Linked DNA regions of Homo sapiens: regions 2, 3, 4 and 5 are each linked to region 1. The links come from fine-mapping of genetic effects on gene expression. A gene starts in region 1. Each other region holds a variant in brackets. All regions are shown on one strand. Distances are between the middles of the regions.

Region 1 (5,912 bases):
CAGAGATAGTACTGGAACCCAAGTCAACCTGGTGAAAGAGTCAACATACAGCCCATTGCTTTCAGTCCCTTTTTCCCTCTCCATGAGGTTTTTCCCTCATGGAGAAAATGAGGATTCTCTTGCTGCCTGCATTCTACTGAGTGTTCATCACTTTAGATAGATGATAGTAGCTGAAGGCATGGGGTAGGTGAGATCACCAGGGAAACATACAGAGAAGAGAGAAAGGCCTTGGGAACAAGCCCTAAGCTCAGAAATGGGACACCTTCCCAGGTCGGGGCTGGTGGAGAAGAGGCAGCATCAGGGAAAACACAGTGGAGCTAAGCTTGGATCTGAACATTAATGGTTGAGAAGGAAGGATGGAGAAGTGGAGGTGCGAGAAGAATGCCACAAGCAAAGGGAGCAGCATTTGCAAAGGCATATCAGATGCAAGAGACAATATGTTACCTTGGAAAATCAGCAAGCGATTTCAGGATGGCCGCAGCATAGGGTGCATGCGTATGTGAGTATGCCTGCCTATGAGTGCATGCATGTTTCTGTGTGTAGGTGTGTGAGTGTATCTGTGTATATCTGTGTGTCTACATGAGTGTGAGTGTGTGTTCAGAAGGCTGGGGTGATGAGACCCTAGAGAGGAAGTACAAATATCTCTTCAAGATAGAGATTTTATTTCATTTAGGTATATACTCAGAAGTGGCATTGCTGGATCATATGGTAGTTCCATTTTTATTCTTTTTCTTTGGGTGGGGGGAACTTCCATACTCCTTTCTGCAATGGCTGTACCAATTTACATTCTGGCCATCCATCAATGTACAAGGGTTCCCTTTTCTCCACATCCTTGCCATCCATCCCTTATAAAGGTTTATGATATTATGGAAAGAGTCTGGAAACACAGTGAGATCTGGAAACAGATCCCTGAAATTCAGCTAATCAGTAGAAACTTTATCTGGAAGGTAATGGAGAGCCTTTGAATTTCTTTTTTGATAATTACAAAAAATGATAAAATGAAAACAAGGCTTTCAGAAGATTCTTGGGCTGGATGGTTTGGAGAAGGTAGGGGCAGGAGAACAGGAGACCAGTTGGTAGGAAAGTATAATAGTCAAAGTGGGAGGTGATCAGCATGTATATGAGCATAGCAGCTATAGGGCAATGGCAGATTTGAGGCTCACTGGTATGAGAAACATGAGACAATTCATGAGATTATCTGAGAAAGTCTATTGACTCCCACCACCACCCAGGTTTACTGAGGTATGATTGAAAAATAAAAATTATCTATATTTAGGGTGGATAATGTGATGTTTTGACATACATGTACATTGTGAATGATGATCACAATCAAGCTAAATAACAGATCCATCACCTCACATATTTACCTTCTGTGTGTGATGAGGACATGTGAGACTACTCTTTTAACAAATTTCAAGTATATAACATGTTATTATTTACTATAGTCATCATGCTATACATTAGCTCTCCAGAACATATTGATCTTACAACTGAAAGTTTGTGGCCTTTGACCAATATTGTCCCCTTTTTGCCCACACTCCAGCCCCTGGTAGCCACCATTCTACTTTTTGTTACTATGAGTTCAACTTTTTTTTAAAGAGTCGACGTATAAATGAGATCATGCAGTACTTGTCTTTCTGTGTCTGGCCTATTTCACTTAGGATAATATTCTCCAAGTTCATGATGTTACTGCAAATGACAGGATTTCCTTCTTTTTTAGAGCTGAATAATATTCCATTGCAGATATATACACACCACATTGTCTTTACCCATTTATCTGTGGATGGACACTTAGATATGTTTCCACATCTTGGTTATTGTGAATAAACTGCAATGAACATGGAAGTGCATCTCTCCCTTCAAGACAGAGATGTTCTTTTCCTTTTTTTTTTCTTTCTTTTGAGATGGAGTCTCACTCTGTCACCCAGGCTGAGGTGCAGTGGTGCAATCTTGGCTCACTGCAACCTCTGCCTCCTGGGTTCAAGCAATTCTTGTGCTTCAGCCTCCCGAGTAGCTGGGACTACAGGTGTGCACCACCATGCCTGGCAAATTTTTGTATTTTTAGTAAAGATGGGGTTTCACCATGTTGGTCTGGCTGGTCTCCAACTCCTGACCTCAAGTGATCTGCCCGCCTCAACCTCCCAAAGTGCTGGCATTACAGGCGAGAGCCACTGCACTCGACTGAGATTTTATTTTCTTTGGGTGTATACTCAGAAGTGGGATTGCTGGATCACATGGTAGTTCTATTTTTATTTTTGGGAACCTCCATGCTGTTTTCCATAATGGCTGTACTCATTTACACCCCACCATCAGTGTACAAAGGTTCTCTTTTTTCCACATCCTTGCCAACACTTGTTATCTTTTGACTTTTTGATAATAGCCATCCTTACAGGTGTGAAGTGATATTTCATTGTGGTTTTGATTTGCATCTCCCGAATGATTAGTGATGTTGAGCATATTTGCATATACCTGTTGGCCATTGTTGAACATTCAAAGCAACAATTTAAAAGCATATCCTTACGTCCTTCATCAATTTACAACAAATATTTACTGAGCACTTATACTGTGCCAGGACTATGCATGGGAACCCCTAGCCCAGTGTAGAATCCAGACAAGTAACCAGGCTTTTGCAACCTAGTGTTGCAAGGGCCCAGAAATCAGCAACCACAGAAGGGGATAGAGGCAGTGGAAGCACCGAAGCCAGTCTTGAAACATCTGGGCCAGCTTCCTATAGGAGGGGATTCTAAGCTGAGAGACACAGTGTGCGGAGCTAGGAATCCCCATGTGTGTAAGATATGGTTTCTGCCTGGGTGGGTGGGGACAGACAAGTAGATGACACGATGCTATTTGACACAGGAATGCAGCTAAGCCATGCATATATATATTATATCTTTCTTTAGTCAGGAAAGAAGATTCTCCTTTGAGCAAATTTACTCCTTTTAAGAAGGCCGAGCTATTTGGAAAGATGCCCACCAGGATGGCAAAGTGGTGCTTGAGCCCTCCCTGCAGCACACGCCCAGGACTTTGAAGCAGGGACAGGGTCCTCCTGGCTACTGAAAGGAATCGAGTTAACGCGCCCTAGTGGCAGGTGGCGAATGGCCGGAGATCCGGCCTCCCAGTGGTGTCCACCGCCACGGGCCTCCGCTCGACAGGCTTATTTCCCTCCATGCTGGAGCAAACCCCGGCTGAAAGAGGGCCGCACTAATTGGTTTGCGTACCCGAAGTGGGAATAGAGAGGGAGGAAAACCATGTTTCAGGTGTTACGGGGGGAAAAAAGTGAAATGCGAACCGCAGGGGAGAGAGCGACCGTCAGGCAGACACCTTGTGAACCGCGGTGGAGAGCACACCTAGGTGGGGAGGTCACCGGCCCAACCCACCACCCTCCGGGAGAATGCGGGCAGGGACAGCAGCAGGGGGCAGCATCCACGTCTCTACGCTTGCAAGGGTTCCCCAAGTCCCTGGCCACTGCTCCCCACTTCCTGCAGCCTCGGTGTCCGCCGGGGGCGTGTGTGAGGGGCGGGGCCGCATGGGGAGGAGGGATTTAAAAAAAAAAAAAAAAAGCGAGGTAATTAGCATTCTCCGATTCCACTGGCTCTCCGCCGCCCCTGCTTTGCATACGCCCGTCCCACTGGCTGCCCGGGGTTTGCTGGGGTTCGGCAAGGTTTGCAGCCGCCACGGCCGCTGCTGCGCTCCGGTGCAGGGCAGGCTGGCGCCGAGCGAACCAGGGCCGGGAACTGGGAGCCGGGAGCCGGGAGCCAGCTGCCCGCGGAGCTGCGGCGGCGGCGGCATCTGGGGTGGTCTCAGTCCCACGAACACCGTGGCCGGCGCCCGGTGGCTACTGCGCCCAGCGGGGCTCAGGGAAGAGCGGTCTAGACACTTTTTATTTTGGAAGAAAGGGGCAAGCCCCGGCGGGAGCTTCCTTCCCGGCCTGGCTCGCTCCCCATTGCGCCCAGCTCCGGCCCGGACTCTGGAAGATGACTCCAGGGTCTGCTCTGTATATTCCAGCGGCGGCAGTTCCGGGAGGCAGCCGAAAGTACTAACAGTTGGTAGCAGCGGCTAGTGGAAAAGTGAGCCAAGGCGGCGCGGACTCGGCTCTCCCCGCGCCCCGCGGCACTCGCTGCTCCTCGCCGCTCCTTCCCTTTGGCTCCCAGGCGGCTGCAGCATGAAGTGGCGCAGCGATGGCCAGGAGAGGTAAGAAGCCCGTGGTGAGAACGCTGGAGGATCTGACGCTGGACTCGGGTTATGGTGGCGCGGCGGACTCGGTGCGCTCCTCCAACTTGTCTTTGTGCTGTTCCGACTCGCACCCGGCGTCCCCGTATGGCGGGAGCTGCTGGCCGCCTCTAGCTGACTCCATGCACAGCCGGCACAACAGCTTTGACACTGTCAACACTGCCCTGGTGGAAGACTCCGAGGGGCTGGACTGCGCCGGCCAGCACTGCTCGCGGCTGCTGCCGGACCTAGACGAGGTCCCCTGGACTCTCCAGGAGCTGGAGGCGCTGCTGCTGCGTTCGCGGGATCCCCGGGCAGGCCCGGCGGTCCCCGGCGGCCTGCCCAAGGACGCGCTGGCCAAGCTGTCGACGCTGGTGAGCCGGGCGCTGGTGCGCATAGCCAAAGAGGCGCAGCGCCTGAGCCTGCGCTTCGCCAAGTGCACCAAGTACGAGATCCAGAGCGCCATGGAGATCGTGCTGTCCTGGGGCCTGGCCGCGCACTGTACGGCGGCTGCGCTGGCCGCACTGTCCCTCTACAACATGAGCAGCGCCGGCGGCGACCGCCTGGGCCGCGGCAAGTCGGCCCGCTGCGGCCTCACCTTCTCCGTGGGCCGCGTGTATCGCTGGATGGTGGACAGCCGCGTGGCGCTGCGCATCCACGAGCACGCCGCCATCTACCTGACAGCCTGCATGGAGAGCCTCTTCCGGGACATCTACTCGCGGGTCGTGGCCTCCGGGGTGCCCCGGAGCTGCAGTGGCCCTGGGTCAGGCTCGGGCTCCGGCCCAGGCCCGAGCTCGGGCCCTGGTGCGGCCCCCGCGGCGGATAAAGAGCGGGAGGCGCCCGGGGGAGGAGCGGCGAGCGGCGGCGCCTGCAGCGCAGCCAGCAGCGCCAGCGGGGGCAGCAGCTGTTGCGCCCCGCCGGCCGCCGCGGCCGCCGCAGTCCCGCCGGCAGCCGCCGCCAACCACCACCATCACCACCACCATGCGCTCCACGAGGCGCCCAAGTTCACCGTGGAGACCCTGGAGCACACGGTCAACAACGACTCGGAGATCTGGGGTCTCCTGCAGCCCTACCAGCACCTGATCTGCGGGAAGAACGCCAGCGGTAAGTGTCTGCGCGGGTGCCACTCCCTCTCACCTAACCTGGCCAACTCTTGGCGCAAGTTTGCCTCGCGTCCCCCTCCCGCGTCTTCCCAGCCACGCGCTGCTGTCCCAAGCCGCTGAGGAGGCGGCCGGGCTGGAGGTAGCCAGAACAAGAGGTTGCCTGTTTGCTCCTGCACTCGGGTGCGCGTATTTCACGCTGCTGGTGCTGTCCCAGGTCCGGGAGCGCGAGGTTCCGCCCCCGGTGCGGGGCGGGGCGACAGCTGCCTCCAGCAGGCAGTGAGCAAAACCCAGCACCATTTTTTGGAGCAGGGTTGAGATCATTTGCGCTTAGTACATATACTCCACCCCTGCACTGTTTGTTTTGACCTTGAAGATGCCACTTCCCTGGGCGCATGAATTGGGCTCCCTAGGACTTGGGAGGAGGCGCGTTCCGCTCTCCGCAATCCAGTGCTCCCACTTCCCCACTCCCTCGGGGGGCACGCAGTGCACGGGGGAAGGAGGGGCCTGGCGGCCGTACCGGCTGAATGGTTGAAAGCTTGCACGGCCTAGACAGTCGTAAAGGTGTGTGTGGTGAGACTGGGGTGCGGGAAGACTTGTCGG
Region 2 (5,000 bases), 150 kb after region 1:
GAGGAAGAAGCATTTGAGTGGCCTTTGAAGGATGGATAGGAGTTGGCTGGACAGTGAGAGAAGTTGGGGGCATTCAAGGCACAGCATGTTCACCATATCGTCTTTCTGAAAGTCAAAGAATTTTGAATCTGAAACACCTCTGGCCCCAAGGGCATTGGAAATGTGATTGTCTATTGTAGTGTCTAACTCACAGTGTCTTTGAGGAGGATAAAAGTCAGGGTATTCAAATGAAGGGCTCAGAACTGTCCAGCCAACACGTGGTGAAACCTCAATAAACGGGAGCTGTCCATGTTGTTGGTATAATGAGCTCCCAAACTCTGAAACCCCTTGGTGTGAGAGTGTGGTCTCAAGTTTGCTGTCTGAAGAGTTGAGGTGCCTTGACCACCTAGCTGAGGTGGGCAAGTCATCCGCACAGCTGTCTGTTTTCGGCTTAGCTGGGGCCCACAAGAAAACGGGCCTTTGTATTTTGTTATTGTAGAATGTGCCGTTCCAACAAGCAGCAGCCGTGCCTACCTCTGGCCAGTGATCCCAGCAGGCATCCCTTGTCCCCCACAAGCCTGGTGTGGCCTGGCGTGGTATAGATAGCCTGTAAACTCCTGACAGCCTTGGCACCTTCTTGTCGTCAGCAACAACCAGAGCACTTGATAATTGTTCACGAATTGAATCTCACCTATTGACTCTAGGCAGAAGCCACTTCGAGACCCGCTTAGGAAACACCTGGATTCTGCGTTACTCCACAGCCACTGACACATGTATGTGCATGCACTCATACACACACACACAAACACACATTCACACACACATGCCAACACACATCAAGACCCAGCTATATCATGATCCACTCAGGGATCCAGAGAAACCAGCTTCTTGAAGCAAAGTTCATTTTTTCCTGCCTATCTCTGTCAGAGACAGGGACTTTAGGGAAAAGACCAGGAGAAAATGCTTCTGTTTACATCAAAGGTCCCTCCTTTTGTTTACTAAGAACTGTTTCCCACACGTTTTCTCTGACCGCTATTAAACAAACAACAGAGGCTTGCCTGGCTTCAGAGGGCTCAAGATGTGGCCACCAACTGATCCCTCCAGATGTGATCCGCTTCCATTTAGAGACCAGAAGAGGCCCCCCTCTCCCCATGTGCAGGAAGAAGAAAAGGAGGCACCTGCAGAGACCCCTCGTCATTGCCTTGGCTTGAAAGATTCTTAGACTTTGCTGAAATGCATCCATGGTTTTCACAACCGAGAAACGCCAGTCATCCTCTGCTCCCTGATTTTAGCTCACGAGCTGAGGTCAGCTGAATTAAGGGCAAAATGTGCCTCCCAGAAGGCTGGGCAGCAGGGAATTGGTGTTGTATTAATCAAGCAAAAAAGGGGAAAATCTGAAGACCAAGCACTCCCTGGCAAGAGTGCAGGTGAGCTGGAGCCAGCCGGCTGGGGTGTTTATTTTTCACTTCTGTGGGCCTGGCAGGAGGTAGGCACTCTTTTCCCTCTTATGCTGGGAGAGAGGGAAGCTGACCAGTCAGTGGCCTTGTGAGTATAAAGAGTTTAAAGGCGCTCCAGCTTCTAGCAGGAGACCACCAGGGCCACAGGAAGTTGCAGATAGCCAGGGACCTGCGTGTGAGTAGCTTGCTGCTGGGAGCTGCCAGCTGGGCACGGGAGACTTTGAGGGTGACCTTGAAAACAAACAATGCTGCTTCAAAGATCCACTGTGGTTGAGGCTGGGTGAGAGAGAACCATCTATAAAGACGGGCTGCGGATTGTGAGCTGAGGGGCATTCCATACTCAGTGGAAGGGAGCGCCCATTTCTTAGTAGTCCACAAGTATTTATTGAGCACCTACTGTGTGTTAGGCAGTGTTTTGGGCAAAGGAGATATAAAGATGAACAAGATAGGAAAAAATAAGTAAATAAAGACATAAATACTATAACTTCTGATGATGTCGAGTGCTATGAAAAAAATGGAGCAGGATATAGGGGCAGAAATGCAACCCATTTTCTAGGCATCTTAACCCATGATGTGGTACAGCAGACACGAGCAGGGTGGTATGACCTTGAAGGCTCACATCCGGGTCACACAACCATTCCGTGCCTCAGCTTTCTCATCTGTGAAAGGGGGCTGATCACTGTAGGGATTTCAGAGGTTCGATAAATAACACCTGTCCTCCCACACCCGCAAAAGTAGGCAGGAAGACAAGGATAACAACATCCCCTTGTTGATGGGTGAGGGCTGGGTTAAGGGATGTGGCTACCTGTGGGGCCTGAAGTGGGATTCCAAACACAGACCCCGGCATGAGACACTGTGACTCACCCCACTCCGGCCACCAGCAGCTCTGGACGGCCACAGGCCTCCCCTGCAGACATCTGCTTCTGATGGGACCCCAGAAGCAGAATGTGTGTTTCCTGTGGGTGGTTGGCTCCCAAAACCAGAAAACAGAGGTGGGAGGAAGGGGTGGAATTGAGCTTCCT[G/C]TAACCCTCACATCTGCTGACTCACCAATAGAGGCGTGAATGCAGAACCAGGTAGCCCAGGGTTCAAATCCTGGTCTGGCTCTGCCCTCTGCTAGGTGCAGGACCTTGGACAAGCTGTCCAGCCTTTCTGAGAGTTGATTTTCTCATCCCTAAAATGGGAACAGCACTGGCACCCATCTGATGGGGTTCCCATAAGGAGTAAGTTAGGTGATGCATGTCGGTTACTTAGGACAGTGCCCGTCATGTACGGGGGTGGAGAGGGCGAGGCATCAGACTGGCCTGTTCTCAAAGAAGCCCTCAACTCTGAAGCACAAAGCCACAGAGTTGAGGTTCCCCCAGCAGCAGGCAGTGCCCACCTCATAGGGTGGTTGTGAAGATTTGACTGGTTAATATAAGGACAGTGCCTGGCACACACGAGCACTTATTAGGTAATAATAGCTTGAATCATTTGAAGAAGTGTCAATATTCAATTTTTCTTCATCTACAAAAATGGCAACTTCAAATGGCAGTGATGATCCTTGTTCATCCGTCCTTCCTTTCTCTCTCTTTCTCTTTCTTTCTTTCTTTTCTTTCTTTCTTTCTTTCTTTCTTTCTTTCTTTCTTTCTTTCTTTCTTTCTTTCTCTCTCTCTCTCTTTCTTTCTCTTTCTTTCTTTCTTTCTTTCTTTCTTTCTTTCTTTCTTTCTTTCTTTCTTTCTTTCTTTCTTTCTTTCTCTCTCTCTCTCTCTCTCTCTCTTTCTTTCTTTCTCTCTTTCTTGAGACAGAGTCTTGCTTCGTAACCCAGGCTGGAGCGCAGTGGCATAATCTCGGCTCACTGCAACCTCCACCTCTCAGGCTCAAGTGATTCTCATGCCTCAGCCTCCCAAATAGCTGGGATTACAGGCGTGCATGGCCATACTTGGCTAATTTTTGTGTTTTTAATAGATATGGAGTTTCAGCACATTGGCCAGGCTGGTCTTAAACTCCTGACCTCAAGTGATCCACCCGCCTTACCCTCTCAAAGTACTAGGATTATAGCGTGAGCCACCGTGCCTGGCTGATCCTTGTGATTTCTTAGCAAGGTGCTTATGGTAGGGGCTCAAAAATATTTAGTTCCTTCCTCTCAAATAATCTGGTTGGGATGAGCCAGTCTGGGGTCCCAGGGAACATTGAGAGCCTACCCTCCCCACCTTCACTCGGGCCCAGTGTCCTTTGCCCCGAGGAGGGCCTGGCTGTCAGCCAAGCCACCCCCATCCCCAGGGTCACGGTGTGGGCAGTGCAGCCACAGGAACCAGCATGGACCCTTCATAGACCTGGATGCTCCCAACTTGTCACTCGGAGCAGAGCACACTGCCATCTGCAGGGTCACCGCTGGGCCTCGTCACTTATCATGATTGCTAATTAAAGACAAAATTAACCGACCCTGGCCTGGTGGCACCTCTCCCAATGCCTGGCTCTGGCTGGCTGGGCCTCAGTGGGGAAGGTCTGCCCCTGATACTTGGGATGGTGGCCAGAGCGAGGGGAGTGGAATCCCACCCAGAACGGAGAAGGTGCCAAGCCATCTGGAAAGCTGGGGCCAGCCCGACACCTCACCAGCCAGCTGGGAGAAATGAGATCTTGGGCCAATCTGGGGGTGACAGGAAAGGGAGGGTGAGATGTGGACGTCTTATTCCCAACTGTATCCCCAGCCCCTTAGAGCAGTTGTTGTTGTCAGAGAGAACAGATGTGATGTACTGAGCATGCCAGGCACGAAGGGGGCATTTGATAAATAATAAATTGCTGCGTGGCTTGATGGATGGGGCTGCAAGTGCATAGTCAGTGCTCAGCGTTTTCCGCATACACTTTCAGAATAACAAACCCCTCTATGGTGCTTTTAGTGAGGTGTTATTCTTAGCATTTAAATATATTCATTCAATGGTTCTCACCAGGACTCTATAAAAGATGTTATTTCCCCATTTTACAGATGAGGAAACCAAGGCACAAAGAAGTGAAGTAACCATCACAAGGCCACACAACCAGCAAGTGGTGGAGATAAGAGAGGTCACAAGATTTGGGAACATAAGGGATTATCTGGGTGAACCTAATCTTCCAGAATAGAAGTTGGCTTTTCATCTTCCTAGAATTTTAGGATTGGGTACAGAAGTACAGGCTCCCATTGCAGGTCAAGAGGAGAAAAAGGGAGAGGAAAAGAGAGGAGGTAGTTGTAGTAAAAATAACAGCTTATAGGTATTGAGCCCTTACTGTGTGTCAGGTTCTGTACCCAGCCCTTTCTCTGTTTCATTCTATTTAATCCTTAGAGTAGCAGTACTTTGAGGTTGGTGTGAGCTTTGCCTGCAATCTGTAACTTTTACAAATGAGGAGCATTACAAAATGACCCTGGCATCCCTGGCAAGAGACACAGAAGCAGCTTCCCCTCCATGACCCCCCAGGTCAGGCAGTGTCCTCTCTATGAAACAGGAGGAAGAACACCCCTCACAGAGCCGTGGTGAGGCTCAGGGGCTGAGTGGGCATTAACTCTGCCCCCGTGCCTAGAGTTCAGACTGTGGGCTCCCTTGCTCTGAAGCT
Region 3 (5,000 bases), 84 kb after region 1:
CAGAAGCCCAGCTGGCTGGAGAAGAGGAATGCAGCGGTACCCACTGAGCACATTCTCCAAGAGTGATTCTTTTTTGAAGATATTTAAGTAACACAGTGCCACAATGGTTGCTAGGATCGTGAACAAAGGATGTCAGGGAACACTGTGGAAACAGGATCTCGAGAAGCTCCCCAAGCAGGGGCACAGCACCCCACCCCCCAAACCCATTCCCTCCATTGTTCAAACCTGGCTCTGCCTCTGTCTTTGAACACCAGACTCATACTCAGGGCTGGGAGTGGAGAACACTTGGTAACAGGGGGACCCAAGGATGCAGAAGAGTCCAGGCACCCATCTCCCCCTCATTTTGGGCATGAGCTCATTGACTGAAAGAATGAGTGGAATCACCTGACAAAAAATGATGATAACAATTACTACTACTATGATAGCAGCTACGATTCTGTGTCCAGCACTGGCCCACATGCTTTACATATTTTTTAAAATTTTATTTTATTTTACTTTAAGTTCTGGCTACATGTGCAGAATGTGCAGGTTTGCTACACAGGTATACATGTGCTATGATGGTTTGCTGCACCTATCAACCTGTCATCTAGGTTTTAAGCCCCACATGCATTAGGTGTTTGTCCTAATACTCTCCCTCCCCTTGCCCCCGACAGCCCGACAGGCCCCAGTGTCTGATGTTCCCCTCCCTGTGTCCATGTGTTCTCATTGTTCAACTCTCACTTATGAGTAAGAACATGTGGTGATTGGTTTTCTGTTCCTGTGTTAGTATGCTGATGATGATGGTTTCCAGCTTCATCCATGTCCCTGCAAAGGATACAAACTCATTCTTTTTTATGACTGCATAGTATTCTATGATGTATATGTGCCAGATTTTCTTTATCCAATCTATCATTGATGGGCATTTGGGTTGGTTCCAAGTCTTTGCTATTATGAATAGTGCTGCAATAAACATTCGTGTGCATGTGTCCTTATAGTAGAATGATTTATAATCCTTTGGGTATATACCAAGTAATGGGATTGCTGGGTCAAATGGTATTTCTGCTTTACATATTTTAACTTACTCGATGATATGTATATGATCAACACTCAAATGGGCCCATGATGAGATGCTTAGGGGGCATTCATGACCAACTCAGGTTGCCAGGCCTCTCCACTGGGATTTCTGATTGAGTAGCTCTAGGTGGGGACCCAGGAATCTGTGTTTTTCACAAGTACTCAGGTAACCCTTATATACAGGTGGGTTTGAGAAACACTGAGTCATGATTTCTCTGTTCTTGTTTATGTTTGCTGAGCAGGTACAGTGACATTTGTGTCTGTTTGCATGCATGTGGCCATTCGCTTGAATTTCGCCTTTTCTAGCCCGAGTCTCCTTACCTGTACAATGGGAATTGTAATAGGATCTACTTCCTGCCATGTGTGAACATTCAGTGAGATGAAGTACTCAGAGCATGGTGTCTGGGATGTGGTAAGTGGTCAGTGTTACCATTGTTATTGGTTATGGCTGTTATTTAGGGACACGCAAAGTATACAAAGAGAGACTTACACCCCCCCGCAAGAGTGCTACCTGAGTGAAGTGACCTTTACCCAGTTCACTGCTGAGCTATGCTCAAGCTAATCTCCCTTCGCTGGTTTGTACAAGCAGATCCGGTGCCCAGAGGAAAATGGACTGGCAGTGAATTGATTACTTCCTGCCTCCCTAAGCAGCCTGGTTTCGAAAGGCCCTGGTCAAATTAAAATGCATTAACTGAGTTTGTCGAGGAGCGATCAGCCATCTGAGAAGGGCCGGTCCCTACCTCCTACCCACATGTGCCAGGCTGATGACCATGTCCACATTCACATGCAGGACCACGTAGTACCAAGACTTGTCTCCTGGCCGCATCTCAGCTCTCATGGAAACCTGGGGTTTGGTTCTGAGCCTGGAGACAAATGAGGTGGCTGTCTGTACCATGTTTCCCAATGGGTTCCTTTTCATGTGCAATATTTTCTCTGCCTATTGTAGAGGCTCAGCCTCAGAAAGCAAAAGCACAAAAAGGCCAAACCAAGAACTAGACCAACCAAAGGAAGCCAAGGGGAGGTGATTACGTAACCCCAGCAGCCAGGCTGTCTGCAAGCCGTATGACTTATTTAGCTGTCTGTCTTTTCGGATGTCAGACTCCATCCTTTCCAGCTGGCTCTCCGCTTTGGTGATTATATTAACACTCAGTAATTATAGGAAATGGACACCTCTCCAGTCACCAGCATTCCCAAGTGGCGGGATGGGGGATATTCAATACCAGGAACACCCCATCACAGGGGGTCAGTCACTGCCCAAGGTTTCAGTAGTCTGGCAAAAAGAGACAGAAATAATGGCACAGTAGTGAGTGCT[C/G]CCATGATGCAAAATGTATTAAATTTAAAGGCTGGTGCTTGATCTTGAGCGGATGCCCTGGGGTTAAAATGTCCTTTAAAAAATCCAAAATGATGAAGATGATTATCAGTGGTTGCCTCTGGCATTTTGACATAACACAAATTTGGCCCCTAATGTTAATCTCCATGTGGGGGAGAAATTCCTGACTGACGAAATTCTAGAGTCTGAGCATCACTGCTTTATACATAAGAAAATAACATAATAAGCAAAATAATAAGAAATAAAAGGAATCTTTTTCATTTTAAAATCCTATGTGTGTAGAGTTTTTTACCCTCAGCTTCTTCTCTTTATATAGTAGGTAACAACCGCTTAGGGTTTTTTTTTTTTTTTTTGCTGCCTTCTCCTGCCTTGCTTCCCTACCCTCTGCCCTCCTCAGAAGCCTCCCTGCCTGTTAGCCCAGTTCTATCTCGACTCCTAAGCTGGTCTTGATGGAGATCGGTGTAAAAAAGTAATTATGATAACAGCCACCATTTGCTGCTTTGCTTCATCTTTGCTATGTGCTAGTTACTTTATTCAATAAAGTGAATAAAGTGCAGCAACAATGGAAAGTGGACTCTTAGTAGTAGTACCAACCCTATTTTACAGATGGGAAAACTGAGGCTCAGAGAGGTTAAATCACTTACACAAAGCCACACAATTTTGAGTGGCAGAGCTGGAATGTGAATCCAGGCAGTCTGACCCTGCAGCTTATGTGCTTAACGATACTGCCTCTCATGTGGGCAAAGGATGGCCCAGGAGAAAGGCAGGCCCAGATTCCAAATCTGGCTTGACCGCCTAAGAGGCTGAGTCTTAACCTCTCTGAGCCTTTGCTGTTTCATCTGTAAAGTGGTCCTCCTGACAGCTGCCTCCTAGGGTTGTTTTGAGGATAAAGTGAAGTAATGGAGGGCCCTTGGGATATGGTACCCCATCTCCTTCCTCACCTGGATGGAAAGCCATGTTCCAGCCACGGCTACTGGCCTGCAAATGGCTTCCTGGGGCTTTTTGCTCTTATTCAGTCTTGCACCTTGCTCCCCCTAGTGCCAAAACCAAGCTGCAGCTCCCCTGGCTCCCTAAACATTGCTTTATTACCTCTCTCAAGCCACTGCCTCCGCCGCCAGGATTCTGACTGGTGGGAGGTTGTGGGCCTGCCAGCTCTCCTCACCTGAAGCCAGGCCTTGCAGACAGAATTCCTAACTAATGACATCCTTGCCCCTTCTGCTACCTCCTAAATTCCTCCTCTTTCTAGATTTGCAGCTCTATGACTGGCCCAGTCAATTGAATACCTGTGGACCAACTATTTCCAGGATAGTGACAGTGGCTTTTGAGTCTGTCCTGCTGCTGGCTTGTCCCCCCACCCACCCCCAGGCTGTGCTATTGGGAGGTGGGACAGGAGTACAGTAGTCACCAGCCACAACATGTCTTAGACATGGATCCTGCTCCTTCTTCTCCTCCATCTGCTCCAGGTTGTGGAGAGGGCTCCCACAGGCCTCGGACCCAAGTCATTCATTCCGATTGTGTGAATACCCTTTAATGAGGGACCTGTAATATCCCAGGCATGGTCTAGAGATCACGTATATCAGTGAATCCTCCTGGCTCCCTGTGAAGTGGGCCCCATTTACTTCCGTTTGACAGATGAGGAAACCAAGGCCTGGTAAGGGCAGAGAAATGTTCATATCGCCCATGGCCCATTAGTGACAGACCTGAACTTGCATAAGGCCTTCTTCATTATAATATCCCTGTGCCTGGAATGACACAGACCGAAAATGTAATGGGTTGTTTCACCGGGCTCTATTTCCAGAATCCATAGGAAGCTTGGCAGATGGGTGCTAAAGCTTCCTACCAGCTACTACATCTCCCTATCAGCTACCTCAGCCCAGGGAGTGCCTTCACCACTCCTGTGAGCCTCAGTTTACTCTTCCCACAATGGGCCTACAGATACCTAGTGATACTTCCTAGGGCTATAGGGAGAATAAAATGAGATCATGTCTGTAAACTGTGTGTCAACAGTACACTTCATAAATGTTATTCACCTTATCCTTGACAAAAGCTTCCACCGATACATTATTCTTGTTTTTAAAAACTTACAGCTATCTGGGAGCACAGACCAAATGGTCAGGGAACACTTTGCAGTCAGGCTTAGCTGAAAGTCGCAGATCCCAGAGGGCAGAGGAAAACTTCAGACAATGAAGTTTGGAGGGTCCACCTCTCCAAAGGGCCACATATTTCCTAGGGAACTCTAAAAATGCCAGGGAGAGACCCTCCTTTCCTGCCCCCCTACCCAAATCAGAAGTAAACAGCATATGGCCGGGCGCGGTGGCTCACGCCTGTAATCCCAGCACTTTGGGAGGCCAAGGCAGGTGGATCACCTGAGGTCAGGAGTTCGAGACCAGCCTGGTCAATATGGTGAAACCCCGTCTCTACTAAAAATACAAAAATTAGCTGGACGTAGTGGCAGGCCCCTGTGACCCCAGCTACTTGGGAGGCTGAGGCAGGAGAATTGCTTGAACCCGGGAGGCAGAGGTTCTAGTGAGCTGAGATCACGCCACTGCATGCTAGCCTGGATAACAGAGAGAGACTCTAACTCAAAAAAAAAAAAAAAAAAAAAAAAAGGAAAAGA
Region 4 (5,000 bases), 63 kb after region 1:
AGAAGGACCACAACACACACTTGACGCTCAAGAAGGGTGGGAAGAAGATAAGTGAATCATCTGGTAGGGAAGTAAAAGGGAACCATGCAAAGCGAAAAAGTGGGGAACATAATCTCATTATGGACTTCGGGAGACCAAGCCATGTGTAAATTTCACAAACACCAGTGGAGTGCTTCCTTTGTGCAAAGCCAATGCCAACGGCTGGAATATTAGATGATTCAGCTGTGGTCCCTGTCCAGAAAACACTTGTGACTCAACCTTGGGCATGTCCCTTAACCACTTTCTTTGGCTTGGCTATAGGCAGACATGGTCTCTTAACCTCAAGTCACTTAAATATTGGGGGATGATGGGATTGCTTCCTCCTGGCATCTTCCCTGCTCATCCCCTTACTTTGCACATCATTTGGCAATGACTGCACCACTGCCACCACAAATTGCTATTAATTATTGAGCACTCACCATATGCCAGGACCTGCGCTTAAAGCAATTTATGTACACTATGGTATTTCATCCTTATAACAACTCTATAAGGCAGATACTGTCCTATTTTATACATGAGGATCTGAGGCTCTGGGAGCATAGGTAATTTGTCCAAGGTCTTATAGCAAGTAAGTAGGGGAGCTAGGGCTGTCCAACAATGCACCCCATCCTCTTAGTCCCCTCCACCTGGAGAAGCCCACCAGTTCATGTTTTTGGCTCTCACCTTGTCCCCTTACGGCCCTCATTCCCCTTGAGCTGTCTAGTTCTGCCTCCACACACTGGCTCGCCTTCCCTGTTTCCCTTGTCACAACGCATCCTGACTGTTCATGCCCAAACCTACAACTGTGCTGGCTCCCTCTGTCTTTGGGACTAAGAATGGATCTTCTGTCACTTGTGAAAACGTCCCCTGATGGGTCTTTGGCTGCATGCCATGCCCTGTGGACAAGCATTGGGGTTCCCTAAGAGGCTGTAAAATAGGAGTCACTGGGATTCTGCCTGCATCTGATGTGAGAGCCACCCCTGCTTTTGTAGCACAGAGTAACAGATGGTGCCAGAAGGAATTTAAGAAGCCTGATTTTTGCTCACAGCAGCAGGCAGTGTGGTGTAGTGGTTAAGCACCAGAGCCATCAAAGTTGACATCCTGGACTTACCATGTACCTGCTGAATGACCTTAGGCAATTTACTGAACCTCTCTGAGCCTCCCTTTGCCCTTCTATATAATTGGGATAATAGTAAACTCCCATAGGGTTGGTGGAAAAGTAGGTGAGACATTGCATTTAAAGCACACATTGCTCCACCTGGTGCAGAGTAAGGGCTCCATAAATGGTCCTGGTTGTTGGCATTGCTCTTGGTGTTAGTAGACCAGTTGATAGGGTTTGTCTGTGTCCCCACCTAAATCTTATCTAGAATTGTAGCTCCCATAATCCCCACGTGTCATGGGAGGGACCTGGTGGGAGGTAATTGAATCATGGGGGTGGGTTTTTCCTGTGCTGTTCTTGTGATAGAGAAGAAGTCTCACGAGATCTGATGGTTTTATAAAGGGCAGTTTCCCTGCACACACTCTCTTGCCTGCCGCCGTGTAAGACGTGCCTTTGCTCCTCCTTTACCTTCCACCATGATTGTGAGGCTTCCCTAGCCATGTGGAACTGTGAATCCATTAAACCTCCTTTTCTTTATAAATTACCCAGTCTCAGGTATTTCTTCATAGCAGTATGAAAATGGACCAATACACCAGCCACAAATTGAGTATCCCCCACATCCCATCCTCTCTCATTCCTTTTCTTCCTTCCTCAATATTAATCATTACCCACTACCAGCAAAGCCTAGTGCTGGGACAGTTGGAAACAGAGAGATGACAAAGACTGACTCAGCCTTGAGGAGCTTACAGAGCCCTCTAGAAGAACAAGGGTCAGTTGGACAAGCTGCCAGGAAGCCTTAGCTTTGAATCTCGGCTCCACTCCTTGCTCCATGTCCTTGGATCAGGTTGATTTATCTGGGCTCAAGTTCCTTAACTGAACGATGGGCTTATATTCACCCCAACACCTCACAGTGTTGTGTCTGGCTGCAGTTCAGAAGGAAAGCAGACCTGCAGCCATCTATCCACCTTCCAGCGGAACAGATTCTCAGGCCCCTTGCAGCCCTGGCATTGCGCGATGCTGTGATTC[G/A]TCTGTGACCCTTAAAAGACCTGCCCTTAACTCCCGGGGTGCAGTACAGCAGTAGAGGTTCTCAGCACCAGCAAACGTGTTCTGAACTGAGCGCTGGTAAACAGAACCAGTGTTTACGAATGGGTGTCACTGGCCTGCTGCTTTGCGTTTTATCACCGAAGATTATGGAAGATTGGGAGCTCTTATTTCAGAGCATGCTTTATGGTTTTCATTACTCTCCTGAATCTCTGTATAATTTGCTGGGATTAGGGACGGAGTGCCTTTGTTTCTTTGTTTGCATTCTTTTCCTTCCATGTAAACCAGTAAAAATCAATAAAAAGCCAGCAGATGAAAGCCCCGCCCACACCAGAACTTGGCTGCGTGTCCCAACATGACTGAGTTGGCCCCTTCTTGGTCAGGGAACAGGCTGAGTGAACCTGAACCTAGGTTTTTGTTTCTGTGTGGTCTGAAAGAGGACCACGCCCTGTATTTACAGATGGGGAAACTGACACCAAGAATTAGGAAATGACCTGTCTAAGGCTGATTTACCTAGCATCTACTGAACCCCATGCCGAGTCATTTGACAAATTATTTTGGGGTGCCTGCTGAGTGTAATTAGCAAGGATCAGGGAGTGGCTTTGTTTCTTTGTCTGCATTTTTCTTTTTAACCCTGAGCTGAGCTGCCATTCTGTCACAATAGTCTCTAAAACAGGGTACATGCGTGAATGTGCACGAAAGGGCAAGAGGAATGTTTTAGAACATTTTTCTCATCCTTTTAGTATTTATATACTTTATGTATATTTTATAATGACCTATATTATATGGTAGTACAGCAGTATATTATATACAATGTTATATATGCTATGTATATGTCTCTAATATTATACTATATATTCAGTTATAGGTTTGGTATAATCTATAATTAAATATATAGTCACATATCAGAGAGGTATATATAAGAATGGTAGGGATGTGTGATCAAAACTGTTTGGAGACCACTGGTTTAATGAATGCATAGCTGTTCCTGACCATTCTGTCTACACTACCCACCCCCCATCATTACTCTCTTTTCCTCTATTCTGCCTTTGTCTTCATCATTCTCCCTGATATTATATTGCATTTTTGTTTATGGTCTGTTTCCTCTATTAGAAAGATAGGTCTGCATAGGTGGAGACTTGGGTTTGCCCACTACTGTCTCCCCAGCACCTAGAAGTGCAGGCTGGGCACTCAGGGGCATGTGCTAAATACTTGCTGAAACAAATGAATGGATGTGGAGCCTCTGCAGACAGGTGAACACACATGCCCCACAAGAGTGTGCTGTGTACAGGGTTAGGGCAAGGGCAGAGTAATCTGGGGATGCCAAGTGGGCATCTGATCCAGCCTGAGGTATGCAAAGGGGCTTCCTAATGAAGGGCTGCCTACACTGGCACCCAAAGGCTGAGGAAGGAGTTGGCCAAGAAAGAGGAGAGCTCCGGGTAGGAACAGCAAGGGCAGATACAAGAGACTAGAGAGGGCAGCGTCTTCCTCAGGGCTGGGCAGTGTCAGGGAATTAATGGCAATGGATGAGGCTGGAAAGGAGATTAGATCTGTTCATCAAACACTTCCACATTGTCTTCAGGAGTTGGGGCTGTATCCTAAGGGCAGGGGGAACCATTCTGACTGCAGCATGGTGTGGTGTGTGGAGCATGGACTAAGAGGCCAGACCTCTGGATTTGCATCCTGGCTCTGTTATTTGTCAGCTCTGTGACTTTGCAGTTATTTAACCTCTCCTGCCTCAGCTCCCTCAGCTGTAAAATGGGGATGATAATAGGATCAGCCTCAGCAGGGCATTGGGAGGATTAAATGAGCTAATTTATGTAAATCGCAGAGATAGCTCTTGGCATGTAATAACTACTCTATATGTGCAATTTATTATAACTCATTCAACAAATGTTTATTGAGCCCCCTATGGTCTCCAGGCTGGAGATACAGTCGTGACCAAATCATACCTAAACCATGGAGCTTGCATTCTAATTAGGGCAGAAAAAAACAATAAATGAAGAAATAAATTAACAAGAACAAATTGGCCAGCAATAAGACCAAGAAGAGAATTAGAGTGGGGATGTATAAAGGTGATGGGACTCCCTCAGGTTGGGCATTCCATAAGGGCCCCCTGGAGGAGGTGACTTACTAGGAATGAGTTTGGATGCTTTCGAAGGCCTGCAAGGATAAGTGTGTTTGCCATATAGTGGGCCCAGGGGAGGGAGGCTTTAGGAGAGATGGGCCAGGACCTGGCACACAGGGCTTGTCTGTCAAGGGAAGGGGTTTGGGTGCAAAGCCACTAGATGTTTCTACGTGTGGTGGGATTTGGCTCCTTTTTAAAAGATCCTCTTTGTAGCAATTGTGAATGGGAGTTTACTCTTGATTTTGCTCTCTGTTTGTCTATTATTGGTGTATAGGAATGCTTGTGATTTTTGCACATTGATTTTGTATCCTGAGACTTTGCTGAACTTGCTTATCAGCTTAAGGAGATTTTGGGCTGAGACTATAGGGTTCAGCCATAAAAAAGGATGAGTTCATGTCCTTTGCAGGGACACGGATGAAGCTGGAAACCATCATCCTCAGCAAACTAACAAACGAACAGAAAACCAAACACTGCATGTCCTCACTCATAAGTGGGAGTTGAACAATGAGAACACATGGACACAGGGAGGGGAACATCACACACTGGGGCCTGTTGTGGGGTGGAGGGCTAGGGGAGGGATAGCATTAGGAGAAATACCTAATGTAGGTGATGGGTTGAGGGGTGCAACAAACCACCATGGCATGTGTATACCTATGTAACAAACCTGCATGTTCTGCACGTGTATCCCAGAACTTAAAGTATAATAATAATTAA
Region 5 (6,043 bases), 350 kb after region 1:
ATTTCACAATGATGCCTTCAGCAAAACAGGCTCCCAGCAGGAAACCAGATAAAAGCGTTAGAATGAGGCTTCACCTATCTCACCATGAAGATGGCATCTCTCTAGATCATTGCTACATGACTACCATCTCCTTTTTGGTTTGGGGTTTTTTTTTTTCACTTTTTATTTTGAAACAATTACAGATTCGCAGGAAGTTGCAAAGATAGTACAGAGTAACCCAATGGTAACATCTTAGATAAATTTAGTACAATATCCAAACCAGGAAGTTGACATCGCTACAATGTGTGTGTATGGTTCTGTGACATCTTGCCACGTGTGGATTCGTGTAACCACCACCACTGTCACTCTTCCCTCACCGCAAAGATCTCCCTCATGCTACCCCTTTGGAATCACTCTGGCCCTTCCTCCACCAACTTCATCCCAAACCCCTGGCAACCATTAATCTGTTTTCCATCTCTATAGTTTTGTTATTTCAAGAATGTTATGTAAATGAGACCATATAGTAAGCAGCCTTTGGAGATTGGTGTTTTTATTATTATTATTATTATTGACACACGGTTTCATTCTGTCGCGCAGGCTGGAGTGCAGTGGTGTGATTTCAACTCACTGCAACCTCCGCCTCCCAGGCTCAAGAATCCTCCCGACTCAGTCTCCCAAGTAGCTGGAACCACAGACATGAGCCACCATGCCCAGCTAATTTTTATTTATTTATTTATTTATTTTTGTAGAGATAGGGATTTTACCATGTTGCCCAGGCTGGTGTCAAACTCCTGGGCTCAAGCAATCCTCCCACCTCAGTATCCTGAGTAGCGGGACAACAGGCATGCACCACCACTACCAGATCACTTTTTAAAAAAATTTTCTGTAGAGACAGGGTCTCGCTATGTTGCCAGGACTGGTCTCAAACTCCCGAGCTCAAGCAATCTGTCTGCCTCAGCCTCCCAAAATGCTGGGATTACGGGTGTTAGCACCTCAAACGGCGAGACTGGCTTTTTGCACCCAGCAGAATGCCTCAGAGACCCATCCAAGGAGCCTGCACGTATGGAATGCTTGTTCCTTTTCATTGATGAGTAGCATTCCCCGGTATCCTGTCACCTTTTAACCAGAGAGAGACAGGGGCTTTCTCTGTCACCCAGGCTGGATTACAGTGGCGTGGTCACGGCTCACTGCAGCCTCAACCTCCCCAGGCTCAAGCTATCCTCCAACCTCAGCCTCCAGAGTAGCCACAGGTGGAAGCCTCCACGCCTGGCTAATTTTTTTATTTTTTGTAGAGATTAGGTCATACTATGTTGTCCAGGCTGCTCCCAAACTAGGTCTTTCTGTAATTGATGACTTCTAGACATCTCACTGATGGTGTAGGGCAGTGCTTCTCGAATTTGTTAAAATGACTCCATGGGGCTGGGGTGGGGCTTGAAATTCATTGTTTCTAACAAGCATCCCAGCGCTGCTGCTGCTGCTGCTGGTCCAGGGACCTCACTTTGAGTAGCAAAGGTGTGCAGTCTGGAAGTCAGAGATTCATCTCAAACCCTTTCTGCTGCCAGGCCAACCTGTGACACTTGTTCTGTCACCTGGCCTTTCTGGAGTCTCAACCTTGAGGGTTATTACGAGCCTTTCTTTCTGACCCAGGGGAGACGTTTTCACAATGCATCTGAAAAAAAATCATTTGAAATTCTATCTTCCAAAACCAAACACCGCATGTTCTCACTCATAAGTGAGAGATGAACAATGAGAACACATGGACACAGCAAAGGGAACATCACACACCAGGGCCTGTCGGGGGGTGGGAGCAAGGGGAGGGAAAGCATTAGGACAAATATCTAATGCATTCGGGGCTTAAAACCTAGATGACAGGTTGATGGGTGCAGCAAATCACAGGAAGGAGAACATCAGACACTGGGGCCTGTCGTGGGGTGGGGGGAGGGGGGAGGGATAGCATTAGGAGATATACCTAATGTAAATGACAAGTTAATGGGTGCAGCACACCAACATGGCACATGTGTACCTATGTAACGAACCTGCATGTTCTGCACGTGTACCCTAGAACTTAAAGTATAATTTTAAAAATAAATAAATGTAATCCTGTCTTCCTAGGTGGAGGGCTCTAACAGTCTGAATTAAGCTAAGGAATTACTCACACATAACCTCACTCTACCTTACTTTTCCCTGGTCTGTTGTTTATCTAAATCAAGTTTATTTATTTCACGGGTATTTACTGATGCCCTAATATAAATGAGAGACCCACTCCTGTGCAATGGCATTAACCAAAGGTAACCAAAGGTGACCTCATCCCTTTTCTTTGTCCTGTTTCCTTCAGGGTTGGCGGCAGAAGGAAAAGAAAAGATTCCTGTTTATTTTCAGACTATGCTTCGAGGCTTCTCTCTGCACTCACAGAGCCCCCTGGGGTGGCAGGGACACCCAGGAGAATCAACAAGGGAATAATCAAAGCTGCTGCCCCTTCCCTGTTCACTTCACAACACTTTGATAATGGAGAGGGACGCTGGAGTATCTGGTTCAAAATGGCTGCTGGGTGACCCTGATACTTCTCAGTTGTATGCTATGGGGAATGAGTGGGTGGGGAAGAAGAAAAAGTGGTAGGATTTTAATCCATAATTACTCATTATTTTGTTTACTTGTGAAGGGAACGACTGCATTTTTGGCACTTCAAAGGACTTGCTTTCATACATTAAATATTTTGTTTGAGGAAGGGAAAAGCTCAGATAGTGTTTTCTGTTGAATAAGTAATGAGAAAGTAAATGAAGTCTGTTTTTTCTAGAAATTCCTTGAGCCAAGGAATGATTCCTTGCCCCTAAAATGTGAGGATTTCAGGTGACCAGTGAGTTTAATGTAAGTCAGCTGCATAATGTGGCTGCTTAGAAGCCCATAATGTAGCTGTGGGCTACATTAATAGAAGCATGATTGCTAGAATGATGGAGGTGATGGTGCTCCTCTGTGCACTGGAGGGCTCTCTGCTGGAATTATGCACTCAGGTCATGTCCTGTATGAGTCAAGGTTTCTAGCAGCAAGCAACTCTGGTTCATTTAAGAAGAAAGAGGGTTTATTCGAAACTATTAGAGGATTACACAGTTGTTGGGAAGGCTGGAGAAACTATTAAAGGCAGAGCCTTTTGGAATAACTTACAAACCACGACAGAGTGACAGAGTGAGACTCAAAAAGAAAAAAAAAGAACAGCCAAAGGAACTGGGATGTTTGGCCTGTAGGAGGGAAGACTTGGGTGACCATCTTAATTTTAGTTGTCTTCATTGCTGCCACTGCTTCCACCAAATGATATGGAGGCAGAAATCACTAACGGCATTTCTGTAGCTCCCAGAAACTTGGCTTCAGTGACTGCTCTTTCCACAAGCACCAGTGTCATTCCTACATCAGGAACTCAGCCGACCCGAAAAAGCTCAGTGCTTCTGCCTCTACTTGCACTACATAATGGAAGCTCCCATCTCCTCATGTTGGCCCTTTAGTATCAAAATTTCACTGGGTACATCCACATCTGACAGGCAGAACCTAGGTCCCATGCCTGCACCTTAGCTGTAGGGAGGCTGGCAGTTTCAGTTCTTGCCACTACATTAGGGAGATAGGAAATCTACTGTGTGATTTCTACAAATATAGAAAGATGGTG[G/A]GTAGCCATGAACATGACAAATGGCCCCTGTGCTTGACGAAAGTCACAGAGAAAATGCAGCCTCATCAGAAGGGAGTAACCAAAGGTGAAAGAACAGCCAAAGGGGCCAGACGTGGTGGCTCATGCCTGTAATCCCAGCACTTTGGGAGGCCGAGGTGGGTGGATCACTTGAGGTCAGGAGTTTGAGACCAGCTTGGCTAACATGATGAAACCCCATTTCTACTAATACAAAAAAACAAAATACTAATACAAAAACTAGCCAGGTGTGGTGGTGGGCACCTGGAATCCCAGCTACTCAGGAGGCTGAGGCATGAGAATCATTTGAACCCAGGAGGCGGAGGTTGCAGTGAGCTGAGATCATGCCGCTGCACTCCAGCCTGAGTGACAGAACGAGACTCAAAAAGAAAAAAAAAAAGAACAGCCAAAGGAACTGGGATGTTTGGCCTGTAGGAGAGAATACTTAGGTGACCATCTTAATTTTAGTTGTCTTCAAATAGCAGAACAGGCTTCATAGATAAGAGGAATCGGGCTGAGTGTGGTGGCTCCTGCCTGTAATACCAACATTTTGGGAGGCTGAGGCAGGAAGTTTGCTTGTTTCTAGGAGTTCAAGACTGGCCTGGACAACACAGTATGACCCCATCTCTGCAGAAAATTTTAAAAACATTAGCCAGGTGCAGCGGTTCATGCCTGTAGTCCCAGCTACTCTGGAGGCTGAAGTGGGAGGATCACTTGAGCCTGGGAGGTAGAGGCTGCAGTCAGCAGCGATCATGCCACTGCACCCCAGCCTGGGCAATAGAGCAAGACCCCCATCGAAAAGAAAGAAAAGAAAAGAAAGGAACTAGCTTGTTCAGTATCATAAAAAGGATAAGAGCTGTCCCAGCGACAGACCCTTCAAGGATTTAGATTTCACCTAAGTATAAATAAGAACTCTTAACAGTCAGAGCAAAGCTTTTCAAAGATGGAATGAGGAGGTAGTAGTGAGTTCTCCATGACAGGAGCCATTCCAGAAAATGCTAGCCAACCCCTCGATAGAGATTCAAGCAATAAAGGGAGTGTAGAATTTAAAGGTTCCTGACAACTCAGGGGTGTTGTCGTTACTAGTTCTCTCCTTCTGATACACATCATCTGGCCTCAGAAAATGAATATCAATCTTGATATAGCTTACGTAGAATTTGTAATGACCTCCCAGCCTTCATTTTTTGGCCACTGCTGCATTTTATTTCAGCACGCCACCCTATTTATCTTCATCAGGTTGTGAGGCAGCGGATCAATTCATTATTCTTACTTATCTAATACAGAAGGAAGAAAAATTGTCCACAAAACCTTACCAGCTGGGAAGGGAAAAAGTAGCTAGAAGCAATTCGGTCACTGAAAAATAGAACTTCTTTTTATAAAGAAAAAAATGCATTTCAGCAAAACGATCAAGTTAGGGAAGGGCCATTTTTGAGAGTGGGATGAAATCCAGGTATGTGAATTTGCACACGTCCACCACATCTCATATGCATTTTTTAAACTGGACTCAACAAAGAAAAACCATGAGTCATGCATTGGTTTGGCATAAGTGGCTGGTGAGTGAGGTCTCCTGTCCGCCTCAGTCTTCCCTCCTGCAGAATGGGAATGTCATTACATTAACATGACAGGTGATGGAGAGGCACTCTTGCAGCAATGGTGGTAAGGGACAGCTCTGTCAAAATGCAGGGAGAAGCAAGAGGGAAGAGAGGGATTTTCTGTGCCCTGGACATGGCCACCTCCGATTTTATCATGGGTTGGTTAATTTCACCTCCCCAGCAGCCTCAGGTCCCCAAAGGCCAGCAGTGGCTCTGTAAGCCATCAGCCTGAGGCAGTCTACTGGCTGCACTCTTAGTCTACTCTGGAGTATGAGGATTCATCCACCAGGCTCCAGTTTGATTCACGGCACTCTCTTGACAGCCTCATTCCCCAGAGTCCCCGAGGACCCCAGCATTTTGTTCATCTCCTGCTCTGAGCTCTTCGGGAGGGAATGTGACTATGTGACTGTCAGCCAGTTGTCACATTTCATCCCAGAGGCAGTGGAAATGATGCCTGAATGCCATGCCTCTGTGTGCTGCATCGGAGATGCCTCTATGTGACTGAAACATCATGGACGATTTTCAGTACATGGGAGGCTGTTCTTTTCCATTCCTTTATATTTTGTGCTCATCTTTATATGCCTTTATCTTCCTTCTCATAATAAATCCTATATGGTAAGAATTTTGATTCCCATTTTTACAGATAGGGAAACTGAGGTGGAGGCAACAAGGCTAAAAAGTGGCAGAGAGGGAATGTGGACCTAGGCTGACCTGACCTCTAAGCCCAACTCTTTGTGGTGCCTCTTCAGTTACAATGCCTCCTCTAAAGAGAGAGGGGAGAGAATAAGATGCTTCTCTCCTCTCC

Evidence for each region. PIP is the estimated chance that this variant, and not a neighbour inherited with it, causes the effect.
Region 2: its variant is the best candidate, but not a certain one, in a credible set for the expression of ABTB3 in whole blood (INTERVAL, PIP 0.56).
Region 3: its variant is the best candidate, but not a certain one, in a credible set for the expression of ABTB3 in esophagus mucosa (GTEx, PIP 0.84).
Region 4: its variant is the best candidate, but not a certain one, in a credible set for the expression of ABTB3 in esophagus mucosa (GTEx, PIP 0.61).
Region 5: its variant is the best candidate, but not a certain one, in a credible set for the expression of ABTB3 in whole blood (INTERVAL, PIP 0.69).

What each region holds. Positions count from the first base shown.
Region 1 is chr12:107,314,763-107,320,674 of GRCh38, forward strand. ABTB3 (ankyrin repeat and BTB domain containing 3) reads left to right here and starts at 3,672. Exons shown (of 17, transcript NM_001018072.2): 1 at 3,672-5,313. The coding sequence starts at 4,179. RefSeq lists an enhancer at 4,174-4,893.
Region 2 is chr12:107,466,844-107,471,843 of GRCh38, forward strand. The region is part of intron 1 of ABTB3 (ankyrin repeat and BTB domain containing 3); the gene reads left to right. Among named protein-coding and RNA genes, the nearest start is that of ABTB3, 150 kb to the left of the region's middle. The variant G/C (reference allele first, on the strand shown) is at 2,459.
Region 3 is chr12:107,399,196-107,404,195 of GRCh38, forward strand. The region is part of intron 1 of ABTB3 (ankyrin repeat and BTB domain containing 3); the gene reads left to right. Among named protein-coding and RNA genes, the nearest start is that of ABTB3, 83 kb to the left of the region's middle. The variant C/G (reference allele first, on the strand shown) is at 2,366.
Region 4 is chr12:107,377,919-107,382,918 of GRCh38, forward strand. The region is part of intron 1 of ABTB3 (ankyrin repeat and BTB domain containing 3); the gene reads left to right. Among named protein-coding and RNA genes, the nearest start is that of ABTB3, 62 kb to the left of the region's middle. The variant G/A (reference allele first, on the strand shown) is at 2,144.
Region 5 is chr12:107,663,301-107,669,343 of GRCh38, forward strand. No RefSeq gene overlaps it. Among named protein-coding and RNA genes, the nearest start is that of PWP1, 19 kb to the right of the region's middle. The variant G/A (reference allele first, on the strand shown) is at 3,632.